3 linked regions of the Homo sapiens genome follow. The protein of the gene in region 1 interacts with the protein of each later gene in a pairwise test. Each region holds a gene or a part of one and is shown on either strand. Other genes may lie near its edges.

Region 1 (3,649 bases):
CAGTTCCCAACCAACTTAGGCATTTGCATTGCAGGATTGTGGGTTTTGTCTGTGCTAATTGTGCTCTGACTGGCTAAAGTTTTTTATATATATTCTAGTCACAGGAAGAATTTTATTGACTGTTTTCCATTTTTATTGTGAAGACCTATGTAAAAGCCTTATACTAGACATGAAAATAACTTATATTCATTTAATGTAAAATGAAATACTTGCCATATACTAACAGTTGAGTGCTGCGGTCCCTTCCAGAGCCAAAGCAAAGAGTCGGCTGAAATGTCATTTGCTGTCTCACAGGGCTAAACTTGAGGAAAAAAGGAAAAAGGAAGAAGAGAAACGGTTAAGAGAAGAAGAGAAGGTAGAGTGTTTCCCACAGAGCTTCCCCGTCCCAGCCCGTTGGAGAAGCAGATGCCCAAAGTGGAATTCTTGCCACAGCCGTCACCTAATATTCTCTTGGTTTGGGGAAACCAAATGGCGCCCGCAGGGAGGGCGAGTCTGTCTAGATGCGTTCTTGTTGCTTCTTCCCAGTGCTGGCTGTCACATGCCTACTGGCCCTGCAATCCTGGCACTTCTACCCACAAGGGCAACTTGGACATTTTGAGATTGGCTGGCTCAGTTGCGGGTCCGTGGGTTTTGAGAGCTGAAAATCACAGTAGTGCCTTCAAGCTAAAATGCTTGACGTTCGGTTCTGGGGGCCTTTGCATGTTTTGCAACACATACTGTTCCTCTTCCTCTCCTCTTTCTCATCACCATCTCTTAACATCACAGCGCATTAAAGCAGAGAAGGCCGAAATCACGAGGTTCTTCCAGAAACCAAAGACTCCACAGGCCCCCAAGGTGAGCAGCCGGCTGCCTTTGCTTTTGGGTTTCAGCTCTGCTAGACTTTTCCTTTCTGAAAGTGAAAGGGTCTCTCCCCAGCCAGCTTCTCTCATTAGGAGGGAGGGAGCCTCCAGTGACCTAGGGCACTTCCATTTCTGGTTAAGTCTTGAGGCTCAATATTTTGTCCTTCGCTTTGTCCCAAAGAGGTAAAAAGTGGCATGTCTGATTAAACAGTGCTGTTTTCAGAGGTTACTTCATGAATAATTTTGTGTTAGGCGTAAGAGAAATTCACCATGTTTTTACCCTTGGGAAACTTAGGCTTAAGGAGGGAGCACGTTTAGCTGTAAAACAACAGTACAATTCACAAAGGTTTACTTTCCCTGCCTGGCGTCGGTCACCTGGCATCTCAGACCTTCTGAGCCACCATCTGTGCATGGAAACCACAGCCCTCCTTCCCCTTTACCCAGAGGGAGCCCATCTCCAATGTTAGGGGTCCTTCAGTGCCTTTCCCTGCTCCACTCACTGTATTTATACACATGTGTACTTAGCTATCTCAGATTTGTGCCATGTTGCCACATTTAGATGTATTTCATTCTTTTTAATGTATCTGGCCTTTATTTATTTTTTGAGGCAGGGTCTCACTGTCACCCAGGCTGTAGTGCAGTTGCACAATCAAAGCTCACCACAGCCTTGACCTCTCAGGGTCTGGTGATCCTGTCACCTCAGCCTTCCCGAGTAGCTGGGACTACAGGCATGTGCCACCATGCCTGGCTAATTTTTTATTTTTATTTTTTTTGAGATGGAGTCTCACTCTGTCACCCAGGCTGCAGTACAGTGGTGCGATCTCAGCTCACTGCAACGTCCACCTCCCGGGTTCCAGTGATTCTTCTGTGTCAGCCTCCCAGGTAGCTGGGATTACAGGCACATGCTACCACACCTGGCTAATTTTTGTATTTTTAGTATAGACGGGGTTTTACCATGTTGGCTAGGCTGGTCTTGAACTCCTGACCTCAGGTGATCCGCCCGCCTCAGCCTCCCGAAGTGCCGGGATTATAGGCGTGAGCCACCGTGCCCGGCCTAATTTTTTAATTTTTTTTTGTAGAGACTGGGTTTTGCTATGTTGCCCAGGCTGGTCTCGACGACCTGGCTTCAAATGATCCTCCAAACCTCGGCCTCTCAAAGCACTTGGATTACAGGTGTGAGTCCCTGCACCTGGCCTGTCCTTTTATTTGTATGTTGAGACATTTGATGGCAATTGTGTATCCTGAAGGTGCACAATGTGACATTGTTGTACCTACACATCATATTGTGACAGCCAGAGATCCACATCATGTATTTTCACTGCCGCATAATACTTCATAATGCAATGATATGGTTTCTCTCTTTTTTTACAAAAATTATTTATTTATTTAGAGACGGAGTATTGCTCTGTCACCCATGCTGGAGAGCAGTGGCGCTATCTCTCGGCTCACTCTAACCTTTGTCTCCCGGGTTCAAGCAATTCTTCTACCTCAGCCTCCCGAGTAGCTGGGATTACAGGTGCCTGCCACCACTCCCAGCTAATTTTTTGTGTTTTTAGTAGAGACGGGGTTTCACCATATTGGCCAGGCTGGTCTTGAACTCCTGACCTCAGATGATCTGCCCATCTCAGCCTCCCTAATTTTATTTTTAGTAGAGACTGGGTCTCACTGTGTTGCCAGGGCTGGTCTCGACCTCCTGGTCTCAAGCATTTCTCTCGCTTTGGCCACCCACCGTGCTAGGATCACAGGCATGAGCCACAGAGCCTGCCACTATCTCAACCTCTTTGCCCCTCAGTGGTGTAGGGGGGGTCCCTGCACATGCTTCTCTGCACACATGCATTCCTCTGGGACAGCCAAGTAAGCATGAGTTCACCTCTAGGACAAAATAGCATATTGCTGAAGCATCATGAGCCATGGCCAGAGTGCGTGCCAGATGGGAAACTCAGATGTACATTCCCGGCGATGTGTGGAAATTTCCTCCCCATTCTCTGCTATCACTGCAATTTTTATGGGATTAATTTTCTTTTAACTTTGCCAGTCTGATGGATTTTTAAAAATTGACATTGTTTTACTTTCCATTTTTACTTGACTCTTGGTGCAGTTGAGCATCTTTTTCTGTTCGTTTGCCATTTTAGTTCTTCTATGACTTGCCAATTCCTATTTTTTTACCTATTTTTCTACAGGATTTTCTTTTTTTTTCTTTGCCTGATCTGTAAGTTTTTTTTAACATAGTCTAGTATTTCATTCTCCGTGATATTTCGTCTCAGCCTGTTACCTCTTTGTTTACAGTCTTTTTTTTTTTTTTTTTTGAGACACAGTTTCACTCTGTTGCTGAGGCTGGAGTGCAGTGGTGCCATCTCGGCTCACTGCAAGCTCCACCTCCTGGGTTCACACCATTCTCCTGCCTCAGCCTCCCGAGTAGCTGGGACTACAAGCGCCCGCCACCATGCCCCGCTAATTTTTTGTATTTTTAGTAGAGACGGGGTTTGCACCGTGTTGGCCAGGATGGTCTCGATCTCCTGACCTTGTGATCCGCCCGCCTCGGCCTCCCAAAGGGCTGGGATTACAGGTGTGAGCCACCGTGCCCGGCCTTTGTTGTTTTTTGTTTGTTTGTTTTGAGACAAAGTTTCGCTCATTGCCCAGGCTGGAGTGCAGTGGCATGATCTCAGCTCACCACAACCTCTGCCTCCTGCGTTCAAATGATTCTCTTGCCTCAGCCTCCCGAGTAGCTGAGATTACAGGCATGTGCTGCCACGCCCAGCTAATTTTGTATTTTTAGTAGAGACGGGGTTTTTCCATGTTGGTCAGGCTTG
Region 2 (3,649 bases), on another chromosome or scaffold:
CTGGCAACCTGGAGTGTGAGGGAAGAGGGGAGGGAGTGAGGCCGCCCAGCACAGACCTGAGCCACCCAGCCCCATGTGGTCAGTGCAGGGGCCACAGCCAGGCTGCATGGCTACATCCACCCGACACTGGGGCTTCAGGACCTCCACAAGGCACTAGGAATAAACAACAGCCCCAGAGGCCGACTAGTGGCTTGAAGAGGAATTCAGACAGCCACAGAGGCACAGAACCTTCTCCTAGGTGCCCCCAAAATATCAAAGGGGGTGCTCAAAAAGCGGGACCCCAGAAGCGCCATCAGCAGTACATTGGATCTTATTGAACATTTTTTTGTGACAAGGTCTTGTTCTGTCTCCCAGGCTGGAGTGCAGTGGGGCACACATGGTTCACTGCAGCCTTGAAGTCATGGGCTCAAGTGATCTTCCCACCTCGGCTTCCCAAAGTACTAGGACTACAGGCATGCGCCACCACGCCTGGTCCATTTGGGTCTCTTCTGAAAGGAGGGAGTCTAAGGGCTGGGAGCAGGCCATGCATAGCTGCACCGGGGGATATTCCACCAATCCCAAGCTCCCTGCTATTGCGTGCCCTCAGGGTCCTCATCTGGGAGGCAAAAGGGGGCAGATCCCAGGTCCAATGCCACCCAGGACCCAGCCTGTCCCAAATGTTTCTGCAAAGTTTCTCACCGTCCTTCAATTTTCCACTCCGTCCACTGGCCAGTTGCAAACTTGTATTCAAAGAGGTCGTTTTTATTCTTCAAGTTAGAATTGGAATAAATGTCCCCAGTGTAACCCCCTGAGTAAAGAGAGTGAGAAACTGTCAAACCCAAAGGGCAGTCTTGGAGATTTCAAACCCTGGAAGGTGGAGCAGAATCTGGCCCCCCTGAAAATGCATAAGCCAGGACTCCTTCCACAAGCCCCGGAACGACCTGCTGCCTGTCTGCCTCTGTGCTGGGCTCTGGGGACACAGAGATGAGCAGGACACTGTTCCCAGCCACAGCTCAGTAACACAGAAAGACACCCAACCCTGTGAGCTCAGGGCCGTTAGGGCAAGGGGTCCCAGATCCAGCGCAGAATTCCGAAGACTGGCAGACAAAGCCACGGGTGGAGAGAGAGCCCCTGCTGTACACAGCACGAGCACAAATGCCCCAGGCCTGCAGAAGGGCAGGGTGTCTGTGGGCCTCGGGGCGACACAGCCCCTGGGAGGCAAGAGGCTGCTTACCAAAGACAAACATGCTGCTCCCATAGACGACGGCCGAGTGGTGGTAACGGGGGGCCGGTGGGGTCCCAGTGGTAAAGGCCCTGGGGTGGGCACAGGGGTGGTGAGAGTCAGCGGGGGTCACCCATGAGGTCCACACCCCCACAGGGTGGCCCTGCATCCCTGTGCTGCCTTTCTTTTTTCTTTTTTTTTTTTTTTGAGACGGAGTCTCTCTCTGTCGTCCCGGCTGGAGTGCAGTGGCACGATCCCGGCTCAACCTCCACCTCCTGGGTTCAAGCGATTGTCCTGCCTCAGCCTCCTGAGTAGCTGGGATTACAGGCACCCACCATCATGCCCAGCTAATTTTTTGTATTTTTGTAGAGACGGGGTTTCACCATGTTGGCCAGGCTGGTCTTGAAGTTCTGACCTCAGGTGATCCGCCCACCTCAGCCTCCCAAAGTGCTGGGATTACAGGCGTGAGCCACCGCGCCCAGCTACGTTTCACTTTTGTATTTTGAAGGTGATACCTGTCTCATCATAGAAACTTAAAAAAAAAAAATCACCAATAAGGAAAAAACAAAATAGGCACTAAAGCTCATGCAAATTCCCATTACCAGAAAACCTCTGGCAACACCTTGAGGTCTTCCCTGCACACCTCTCCTACGCATACTTAGGCTTCCATGAAATTTTTTAAAATGGAATCAAGTGGCAGATATTTTGTAAATTGCTTATTCCACTCACAGAATGTGACCAGGTCCTCATGCTACTCCAGGACCATCCACACTCCTGCTCTCAGCAGCAGTGCAGCATCTTACAGCACGGGGTCCATCAATTTCATTTAATACCTATCTATCTAACCATCATCTATCTATCTACCTATCATCTATCAATCATCTAATCTATATAATCTATATATCCATCATCTATCCACCTATCATCTACCTATATAATCTATCCATCATCTATCTGTCATCTATCATCTATCTACCTATCATCTATCATCTATTGTCTGTCATCTATCTACCCATCATCTATCTAATCTACCTACCTATCATCTACCTATCATCTATCTATCGATCTGTCATCTATCATCTATCCACTATCTATCTATCTGTCATCTATCTGTCTAATCTACCTATCATCTATCTATCATCTCTCTTTGTCTTTCTATCATCTATCTATCTTTCTTTCTATCTATCTATCTATCTATCTATCTATCTATCTATCTATCATCTGTCTATCTATCTTCCTAGACAGGGTCTCACTTTGTTGCCCAGCTGGTCTTGAACTCCTAGCTTTTTTCTGAGTTTTATACTTAAGCAATTTTTGACAAATAATTGTGAAGCCTTCAGAATGATTTTTTAAATTAATTTGTAACTACTAGCCATCTTACAAAATCAAGTGTGAGAGAAAAGACATAGCAACTTCTGTACCCATACTAGCATCAGCCTCGAGGTAGAGGTGGACAGCCCAGAAGGGTGCCGCCCTGTGTGCCCAGCTTGGCAGCTGCAGGTGCGGGGTGGTTACTTGATCTCCTCAGCCTGACAGGGCGGCTCTGGATGTGGCATCCCTGAGGCCGTGGTTATCTCCTCCTGGAAGCTTCTTTCTAGCTTCCCATGATGAGAGAGACTCTGCTAGCAACTGGGACCCAGCACTGTGCCACTGTGTTCTAGGAGGAAAGGCAGGGCCCTGGAGCACGGGGCCACCCACCTGCACCAGGAGCAGTCTTTCACATCGAACCGCAGGAGGTCATTGAGCATGGTCTTCCTGAAAGGCAGCCGGAAGAGAGGGTGGCATTAGCCAGGTCTACTCTGCAGTGACCCCAGAGATGGGCACTGCATGTAGCCAGGGTAGAGTAGGGGGCTGTTGTGGGCTGGGTCACTAACACAGCCAGGCAACCAGCTGATGCCCAAGAACAAGAGTGGTGACCACAAAGGAGGCTCCCCAACTGATATGGGCACCAGGGCTGCCACACAGGCAGACACCAGCCTGCCTGGGGTCAGGACCAAAGCATGAATGTGGCCACCAGGAGCCCAACCAGCAGCTGACATGAAGGCATGAAATGGCCCAAAGGCCAGAGTCACCCTCACACCTCACCCTAGCCTCCAGAACCCCTATTCACACGTCCCAATCCCCTTCCTCTGCAGCTGTACCCTGCAATGCAAGTGCTTGCCCGTGCCTCAGGAGAGGCCCTTTGCTTCTCTCTGATCTTCCTGCCACTTCTTAAAAAAAAGAAATAGAGACAATGGGCTGGGCTCGGTGGCTCACGCCTGTAATCCCAGCACTTTGGGAAGCCTAGGCGGGCGGATCACTTGAGGTCAGGAGATTGAGACCAGCCTGGCCAACATGGTGAAACCCCATCTCTACTAAAAATACAAAAAAATTAGCCTGGCATGGTGGCAGGCGCCTGTAATCCCAGCTACTCGGGAGGCTGCGGCAGAATCGCTTGAACCCGGGAGG
Region 3 (3,649 bases), on another chromosome or scaffold:
TTTTAAGGTCTTTGGACCTAGGGAAAAGGGAGCAGGTCTGTATGTTGAATGAGGTTTGCTATGTGCGCAATGGAGCATTACAAAACCATTTCCTACTATTCTGTGTCCTCCATCCACTTCCCCTTAATTATCCTTTATCTTTTTTTATATCTTCTAAAAACTACCATTATAGACAGCTTGTACATAGTCAGATTATAAGCTCCCTGAAGGTAGGTATCCTGTGTCTCCTGAAGGGTAAGCTTTGCAGGGCTCATTGTCCTCAATGCTGTGCACCCAACAGGAACTCAATCAATACTTCTGTAATTGGCCAAGTATAGATGAAAGGGTTTCTAGCCTGGTGGGCTGGTTTGTAGGAGCAAAGGAATCCAAGTGCTTAGGCCAATAGTTTACATCGCCAGTGTCTGGGGCTCTATGCAGGGTCTGTCAATATTCTGCAGGAGCCAGCACTCCTCTGTCCTCCCAACCACCCTAGTCCTTACAGGCATCTACCCTTTGTTCTATGCCAGGACTACAGGGACAGTTCTGCAAGGCATCTGAAGTTAATAACCTCAATAGGCTCAGGAAAGGCTCAAGAGATCCAGCCCAAGCCCTTCCACAGAGGCCGCTCCAGGAAGTGCAGGGCAACCAGAGATCACACAACTACGTGTGAACCCAGCTCACAAAGCCAGCTCGGAACCCAGATCTCCTGCCCATACCACTGCCCAGGCAAGCCCAGCACCATTTCTCTGGTACACATTGCTCAATGTCAGGCAACAGCCCACCCAGAGGTCTCCTGGAGACTCTAAAGGCCTTCAAGACCCAAATGATTATTCTCTGAATAAGAATTTATATATTAAAGCTGACCCCTATAGAAATTCCTTAGGAAAATAGGGACCAGACTCCCTATCTTTTTCTTTCAAATCTCATGATAGAGTACCAAGTCTTTCCCCTACCCCCAAAGGAGAGTCCTAACCTGGAATGCTATTGGGCTGGATCTCAGGAGAAATCTCTAGGGTCCTACACACACGCCCCTCATTAATTGTGACCAGCATAGTGGGTATGGGCCTTTACCTCCCACCACACCATGCCAAACTGCCGGCTATACTTTCAAAACTCAGGGCCCACATCTGGCCAACACCCACTCCTTCCCCACCCCTCACTGTGTGGGGCACACCTTGGCAACCAGACTGCTGTATCTCGGAAGCGGGTTCCACCCAGGCTGAAAATCTCCGTGATCTAGAGAAGAATTAACACCATAGGTCAATGTGGTTGTTGGGGCTACAGCAGGGTCAGGGCAGGGTGGGGCATCCCCAGCACTGACCACGGGTGTGCCAGCCCCTCCTGCCTCTTCCTCTGGGGCCAATTTGGAGGCAGAATCATCCTTGTTCTCCTCCTTGTCCTCCTCTGGGTCAGGTGGCTCTTGCTTCACAGAAGGCAGGCCTGGGTCTACTGCCTGGGAGAAGTAGGAAACAGGCAACCATTAGAAGGGCAGAGTTCACCTGAGGAAAGTCTCTATCAGCCAACCCCTCACTGTGCTGACAAATCCTACTTCCATCACATTTCAACACAGAAAGTCCATCTCTCTGCCTACAAAGCTTTCCCATTCCCATTCCTCACTGACCTCCGTTTTTCTGTTAGCTGGATAGCAAAGCGGGCAAAGCTAGTTGCCTGTGGGAGGTAGGGTGTCTGTTAGACAGGCGGGGTAATTCTGCAGAAACGTCGCAATCAGCACATCTATTGCTCTGCTCAAGAGAACCATCATGGCTCATCATCACTCTGCTTACAGACCACTCCGCTACGGCACCAACAGAACATCCATCACTGCCCCCACCTTGCTAGGGCAGCCAGGCACCAATACGGGAGAAGTCAGGACAGCTGTGCCTGGTGTCCACTCGTCCTGGGTATCCGCCTTCTCTTGCTTCACCTGGGGTAAGGCCACAACCCAACTCAGGCCAGAGCACTGGGCCTCCTGCGTGAGGGAGGATTGCAGCAGACTTGGTCTCAGCTCCCTGGCATGCAGCTGGGTGAGGCTGGGAAGGCAGGACAGGGTGGGGCCCTCACCTGCAACAGGGCTTCTGTGGAAGCTGCAACAGGGCCCGGCACCTGCACAGGACTGCTTGCGCCTTCCCGTAAAAACACAAGGTCAGTGCCAGGCGGGGGCAGCACAAAGCCACCACCTGCTTCCTGCTTCGTTGGAGCCTGGGTATGGTCTGGTTGGGCTGTGCGTGTAGCCAAGGTGGGCTTCAAGGTAGGGCCAAGATGGTGCCGTCGGGCAGAGCTGGGCCTCTTTCGACGACGGTAAGGTGGGGGCGATCCTGCCCCATCCTCAGACTCTGACCAGACACTGGGCAGCAGCCGCTTCTATGGGGAAAGATAGGGTGCTATGGCTACCTGGTGTCCTGACCAATCACATCCACCCTGCCCGGCTCCACATGCCTGCTAATCTCCCATCAGTCCCAGCACGGAATCTGCTTACATATGAGCCCTTCATCACTGAGCCTGCTAGTCTCCTATTAGCAACACCAATGCCACCTAGACTCATTAAGCCAAGAACAATGTCTGTTAATCCTCAACCAAAGCTACTGCCCCACCCACCCACCTACCAAGCCTGCCCACCACTTCCAGGCACTGGGGCGCCTGGCCCAACCTATCCCGTCCACCTGACCCTTCCTGCCCCACCCACCATGGCAAACTGCAGGCATTGGCGCCAACGACACTTCTGGCGCTTCTGGTTGCTGCCCCCGAATTTGGGCTTGTCGCAGCAGAAGTCGCAGCGGCCACAGTCCATCCGCCGTAGGCAGGCTGCACAGGCCCCGCACTTGCGGTTCTGCCGGCGGTTCGTGTAGGGCTGCTGGGGTGGGGGGAATGGGTGGTGCTGTCAACTAGGACTAGGAGAGGCCATCCTCAACGCCTATTCCAGTGCTGGTCCTGGTGCTCCTCTAGCCCCATAAGACGGAGCTACTTGCATACTAGTCTCAGCCTCCTGACTCCCCACTAGTCACTCCTCAGCATTCGCTAGTTCAACATTGGCCACTATCACTGTGCCAGCTGGCCCTCGATACCATTAGGACTGTGGCTGCTCCACTACAGTATCCACTGCTGTATTTCCTAGGCCACCACTAGCTACCAAGAAAATGTCTCTGACCCCCATTTCCAGCAACATTTTGATAACTCTCTATTAGCTCCCATCACTGTGCCTACTCTGTCGCTCATCCTAGGTGAACCCCAGTCACTATGCTAGCTGCTCCTCTGTCAATCCCCACATCAGCTACCAGAGTGTTGGTATATGTGACATGAAGCACTCTCATGCACCTGCTGACCCCGTATTAGTCCTCCATTATCTACTCATCCCATCCTAGGACCCATTATTGTGCCTTGCTGTTCCCCAATAGGCTCATTCCAGCATCTGCTTCTTTGAAGTTAACCAAGCGTCCTGAGATTCTAGGCTTATCCAGGTAGGGTGGGGCCACTCACTAGCTCGTCCTCGTCTACACAGTAATAGATGAACTCGGCAGGTGGCGAGGGGGCCAGGGCTCTGGGGTGCTGTAGAGGCAAATGGGGTGGGGTCAGGGCAGGTACTGGGTAAGGTCAGGGTTGTGCCTTCCCTCCACCCACTGGGGCCTCACCGGCTCTGTGGGCTCTGGGGACTGTGATGGGGGTGGTGGAGGCA

What was found.
Region 2: the proteins of CHAF1A (region 1) and LZTR1 interact in a two-hybrid assay, tested with the Homo sapiens proteins (one large-scale study listed by BioGRID and IntAct).
Region 3: the proteins of CHAF1A (region 1) and MBD1 interact in binary tests that used the Homo sapiens proteins (3 or more experiments, as listed by UniProt).

Annotation. Positions count from the first base shown.
Region 1 is NC_000019.10:4,423,041-4,426,689, forward strand, and holds part of CHAF1A (chromatin assembly factor 1 subunit A), read left to right. Parts: intron 1-294; coding exon 295-355; intron 356-765; coding exon 766-834; intron 835-3,649. UniProt on the Homo sapiens protein: Acts as a component of the histone chaperone complex chromatin assembly factor 1 (CAF-1), which assembles histone octamers onto DNA during replication and repair.
Region 2 is NC_000022.11:20,985,148-20,988,796, reverse strand, and holds part of LZTR1 (leucine-zipper-like transcriptional regulator 1), read right to left. Parts: intron 2,957-3,649; coding exon 2,900-2,956; intron 1,294-2,899; coding exon 1,214-1,293; intron 788-1,213; coding exon 679-787; intron 9-678; coding exon 1-8. UniProt on the Homo sapiens protein: Substrate-specific adapter of a BCR (BTB-CUL3-RBX1) E3 ubiquitin-protein ligase complex that mediates ubiquitination of Ras (K-Ras/KRAS, N-Ras/NRAS and H-Ras/HRAS).
Region 3 is NC_000018.10:50,271,524-50,275,172, forward strand, and holds part of MBD1 (methyl-CpG-binding domain protein 1), read right to left. Parts: coding exon 3,606-3,649; intron 3,523-3,605; coding exon 3,454-3,522; intron 2,831-3,453; coding exon 2,663-2,830; intron 2,341-2,662; coding exon 2,041-2,340; intron 1,949-2,040; coding exon 1,811-1,948; intron 1,433-1,810; coding exon 1,301-1,432; intron 1,216-1,300; coding exon 1,154-1,215; intron 18-1,153; coding exon 1-17. UniProt on the Homo sapiens protein: Transcriptional repressor that binds CpG islands in promoters where the DNA is methylated at position 5 of cytosine within CpG dinucleotides. Binding is abolished by the presence of 7-mG that is produced by DNA damage by methylmethanesulfonate (MMS).